Linked DNA regions of Homo sapiens: region 2 is linked to region 1. A link means that fine-mapping ties the variant in region 1 to the expression of a gene that starts in the linked region. Tissue or cell type: aorta. Region 1 holds a variant in brackets; the other region holds the start of a gene. All regions are shown on one strand. Distances are between the middles of the regions.

Region 1 (2,756 bases):
GTTTAAAAAATGTGACTGGCTGGGTGTTGTGGCTCATTTGGAAGGATTGCATGAAGCCAGAAGTTTGAGACCAGCCTGGGCAACATAGCAAGACCCCCCATTGCTACATATTTTTTTATCTAAATTAGCCGGCTGGGTGAGGTGGCTCACGCCTGTAATCCCAGCACTTTGGAAGGCTGAGGCAGGTGGGTCACCTGAGGTCAGGAGTTTGAGACCAGCCTGACAAATATGGTGAAACCCCGCCTCTAATGAAAATACAAAAATTAGCGGGGTGTTGGCAGGTGCCCGTAATCCCAGCTGCTTGGGAGGCTGAGACAGGAGAATCGCTTGAACCCGGGAGGCAGAGGTTGCAGTGAGCCGAGATTGTGCCATTGCACTCCAGCCTGGGTAACAGAGTGAGATTCCATTTCAAACAAACAAAAATTAAAAATAGGCCGGGCGTGGTGGCTCACGCCTGTAATCCCAGCACTTTGGGAGGCCGAGGCAGGCAGATCACAAGGTCAAGAGATCAAGACCAACCTGGCGAACATGGTGAAACCCCATCTCTACTAAAAATACAAAAAAATTAGCTAGGCGTGGTGGGCGCCTGTAGTCCCAGCTACTCAGGAGGCTGGGGCAGGAGAATAACTTGAACCCGGGAGGCAGAGGTTGCAGTGAGCCAAGATTGCGCCACTGCACTCCAGCCTGGGTGACAGAGTGAGACTCTGTCTCAAAAAATTAAAAATAAAAATAAAAATTAGCCAGGTGTAGTGGTGCATGTCTTTGGTCCCAGCTACTTGGGAGGCTGAGGCAGGAGGATTGCTTGATCTCAGGAGTTGAAGGCTGCAGTGAGCTGTGATCACACCACTGCACTTCATCCTGGGTAAGAGTGGGACACCTGTGTCTTAAAAAAAATAAAATAAAAAGGCCAGGCACGGTGGCTCACGCCTGTAATCCCAGCACTTTGGGAGGCTGAGGCAGGTGGACTGCTTGAGCTCAGGAGACCAGCTTGGGCAACATCAGTGAAACCCTGTTTCTACCACAAAAATTAGCCAGGCAGAGGCCGGGCATGGTGGCTCATGCCTGTAATCTCAGCACTTTGGGAGGCCGAGACGGGAGGATCATCTGAGGTCGGGAGTTCGAGACCAGCCTGACCAACATGGAGAAACTCCATCTCTACTAAAAAAAAATACAAAATTAGCCGAGCGTGGTGGCACATGCCTGTAATCCCAGCTACTAGGGAGGCTGAGGCAGGAGAATCGCTTGAACCCGGGAGGCGGAGGTTGCGGTGAGCTGAGATTGCGCCATTGCACTCCAGCCTGGGCAACAAGAGCGAAAACTCCATCTCAAAAAAAAAAAAAATTAGCCAGGCATGGTGGCGGGTACCTATAGTCCCAACTACTGCAGGAGAATTGCTTGAACCTGGGAGGCAGAGGTTGCAGTGAGCCAAGATCACACCACTGCACTCCAGCCTGGGAGACAGAGCAAGCAAGCCTTTGTCTCAAAAAAAAAAGAGAAAAAACAAAAAGAAAAATTTTTTAAAAGTGTGTCCAC[G/A]GCCGGGCGCGCTGGCTCATGCCTGTAATCCCAGCACTTTGGGAGGCCGAGGCGGGCAGATCACCAGATCAGGAGATCGAGACCACCCTGGCTAACACGGTGAAACCCCGTCTGTACTAAAAATACAAAAAAAAATTAGCCGGGCGTGGCGGCGGGCGCCTGTAGTCCCAGCTACTCGGGAGGCTGAGGCAGGAGAATGGTGTGAACCTGGGAGGCGGAGCTTGCAGTGAGCCGAGATCGCACCACTGCACTCCAGCCTGGGTGACAGCGCGAGACTCCATCTCAAAAACAAAACAAAAGTGTGTCCACTAAAGTCACTTATCCAGTAACTTTTTTTTGAGCGTCTACCATGTGCTGGGCACTGTTTAAGGGGCATAGGATACATCAGTGAACAAAGACAAAGATCCCTGCCTTGGAGCTTACATTCTAATGGAGGGAGACAGACAATAAGCAATCCACGAGTAAATTACAGAGAATGTTATAGGATGGTATGTGTGTTGGGAAAAGAAAAAGTAGAGTGGGGTGAGGGGGTGAGGAAAGGCTGGTCAGAGGAGGCCTCACTGAGAAGATGAGATTTGAAGTGGGTAAGGGTTGGGCACTTGGATCTGTGAGGAGGAGCTTTTGGAGAGATGGAAGACTAGAGCAAAGGCCTTCAGGCAGAGGTGCGTTATAGCACTGAGCCCACTACAGCCAGGCAGTGTGAGAGGGCAAGAGGAGGAGGGGGTCAGAGATGATGGGCAGCCGCTGTGCAGGCTGTGTAGGGTGTTAGAAAGACTATGGCCTTTACTGGGAGCGAAATGAATCACTCCTTGCTAGGTTGGCAGAGGCATCACATGATCTGACTTCCATTTTAAAACTGTAACTGCATATTAAAAACAGAATATGGGGGGTAAGGGTGGAAGCAGGAAGACTTATCAGAAAGTATTGTCAGCTCAGTGCTCTTGTGCAACTGTAGTCCTATCTGCTTGGGAGGCTGAGGCAGGAAGATGGCTTGAGCCCGGGAGGTTGAGGCCAGGCATTCATGCTGGTCCAGACGTCGTGGCAGCATTGGAGGTGGTGAGACATGGGCAGATGATAGATACATCTTGAAGGTAAACCAGCAAGATTTCCATGGACAACTGGATGAAAGATAAGAGAGAAAGTGAAGTTGAGAATGACTCAAGTTTCTGGCCCCTAGCAAAAGAAGTATGGAGTTGCTGTTAATTTCGATGGAGAAGGTAGCA
Region 2 (2,628 bases), 120 kb after region 1:
ATGGAGGGCCATCTCATTACACCAAATATTTCTTAAAAGCTTATTAATATCTACTATTGCGTTTAACTTTCCAAGTTGGAATTGCCATCTTCATTTTACACATGAGCAGGTGGTGCAGGTGAATGGCCAAGTAAAGATATTAACGTGGCTTTCTGAGAGGGACCCAGTGCCAGGAGTGTATTTTTCCCTCTATACAGTTATAACTCCTTCTCAACTCCCTAAGGTAAAAATACCACCACCGACTGATCACTTATTAGGAGCCAGAACACTGCCAGATGTGTTACTTACATTTTCTCTAATTTCCAAAACAACCCCAAGGGAATGTTGTCCGTTTTACAGACGAAAGAGCTGAGGTTTAGAGAAAGTAAATAACTATGTCATTAAGTCTAGAAAGTGGCAGAACTATTGGGACACCCTAGCTTCAGCTTTTATTTTTTCTGCTCCATACAGCTACGTCTCCCACACTTTTTCTGCGCTGAGAATGGGAGAGGGGAAAACATCAGGATCGAACAGGATCAAAGTGCAATTCCAAGGGAATCACAGCTTGGCTCCAATCAACGCAAGTCCCGCTCGGTAGGCTGGGATAGTTCCCCAAGCATCTCTAAAAGCAACAACAGTTGGAAATGGAGACGAAGGAAATGGAAGCGTGTTCTTGATTTTCACTAATGAAGAGTTGGAGAGGTCTGAAGTTCAATTAGAGGGAGAAAGGGGCCAGGGTCATCGGAAAGGGCCCTGGGCGGGGAATCAGGGCACCTAGGATGGCGTCCCAGGTCTCCATGACCCAGACAAGTCACTCCACCTCTCCGGACCTCAGTTTTCCCATCCCCTTCAAAGGATTTGAGGGGAAAAGGGAGGGTCCAGGACTCCAACGCCCTCCCGACTCTGGCCTGAGAGCTGTCCGGCCTCGCCTCTAAGAGAGCAGTCACCACGGGCCAAGCCCCCAACCCTGACAGTCAGAGTGCCTGCAGGGCCGCCGCCTCGGCGGCTCGGGGCACTTACAGCCCGGAGGGACGCCAAGCCCACCAGTCGCCGCGGAAGCGCCTTCCTCATTGCTGCCATCTTGGCCCAGAATCCCCCGCGGCAGTCCAGCTGGGCCCCGCGTGACCGATGGCTCGTCTGGTGGGCGCGGCCCCGCCCCCGCCCCTCCGCCGTGACTTCCGAAGCTGGCTCCACCCCCAGCCTCTCTCCGTTTTGATTCCGAGCGCCTCTTCCATGCCAGGCCAAGTGAGACGCTAGGAATATAAAGATGAACAGAATCAGCCTGGACACCATGTAATCCTAGCACTTTGGGAGACCGAGGCGGGTAGATCACCTGAGGTCAGGAATTCGAGACCAGCCTGGCTAACATGGCGAAACCCCCGTCTCTCCAAAAAATCCAAAAAAAAAAAAAAAAAAAAAAAAAAAAAAAAAAAGCCGGGCGTGGTGGTGGGCGCCTGTAATCCCAGCTACTTGGGAAGCTGAGGCAGGAGAATTGTTTGAACCCGGGAGGCGAGGTTGCAGCGAGCGGAGATCGTGCCACTGCACTCCAGCCTGGGCGACACAGTGAGAGCCTGTCCAAAACAAAAAACCCAAAACCAAACAAACAAAAACATGAAAAGAAATTAACCAAATTCTGTGGCTTCTTGTGTTTAGAGTGTGGGAGGTGTGAGGAGACACATATTAATAGTTACACAAACAGTTGTGTCATTTCTAACTTGCACTATAAGAAGCAACGATTTGCTACTCACTGTTCCGAGTTCTTAGCACGGATTAACTCACGCATCACGATCTTCAGGATTCAAACACAGGCAGGCAGCTCCAGAGAGGGGGCATCCTTAGATTTCATACCTTAAAAAAATGATTAAGATTTATCTAGGTGTACTTTCTGAAGGGCTGAAAAAAAAAAAAATCTATCCAGGTGAAGAGGATACAAGAAAAACTTTCCAGACGGTGTAGCATTCGCAATGGCCCTGAGGCAAAGAAAATGCTGAGAACACTGTTTTTCTCTCTTTTGTTTTGTTGGTTTGTTTTGTTTGTTTGAGATGGAGTCTCACTCTGTCACCCAGGTTGGAGTGCAGTGGCGCGATTTCGGCTCACTGCAACCTCCGCCTCCCGAGTTCAAGAGAGTCTCGTGCCTCAGTCTCCCGAGTAGCTGGGATTACAGGTGTGCACCACCACGCCTGGCTAATTTTAGTGTTTTTAGTAGAAACGAGGTTTCACCGTGTTGGCCAGGCTGGTCTCAAATTCCTGACCTCAGGTGATCCGCCCGCCTTGGCCTCCCAAAATGCTGGGATTACAGGCGAGAGCCACCGCCCCCGGCCAGAGCACTGTTTTCAAACTGTATGTTGTACCCCACTAATTGGTCACAGTATCAATTTAGTGGGTACAAACTTTATTTAAAACAAAGAACTAGAATTTTATCTATCTATCATCTATCTATCTATCTATCTATCTATCTATCTATCTATCCATCTATATTTATTTATTAAGACGAAGTCTCACTGTGTTGCCCAGGCTGGAGTGCGGTGGCGTGATCTCGGCTCACTGCAACCTCTGACCCCGGGGTTCAAGCGATTCTCCTGCCTCAGCCTCCGGAGTAGCTGGGATTACAAGTGCCCATCACCGTGCCCAGATAATGTTTGTATTTTT

Evidence for each region. PIP is the estimated chance that this variant, and not a neighbour inherited with it, causes the effect.
Region 2: HMGCL starts here. The variant in region 1 is fine-mapped to the expression of HMGCL in aorta (GTEx, PIP 0.99).

The regions. Positions count from the first base shown.
Region 1 is chr1:23,705,611-23,708,366 of GRCh38, forward strand. No RefSeq gene overlaps it. Among named protein-coding and RNA genes, the nearest start is that of RPL11, 15 kb to the left of the region's middle. The variant G/A (reference allele first, on the strand shown) is at 1,534.
Region 2 is chr1:23,824,357-23,826,984 of GRCh38, forward strand. It overlaps HMGCL (3-hydroxy-3-methylglutaryl-CoA lyase), which reads right to left and starts at 1,073. Exons shown (of 9, transcript NM_000191.3): 1 at 1,000-1,073. The coding sequence starts at 1,059. It overlaps LOC105376861 (a long non-coding RNA gene), which reads right to left. Exons shown (of 3, transcript XR_947068.2): 2 at 1,728-1,827; 3 at 1,184-1,232. RefSeq lists an enhancer at 1,074-1,942.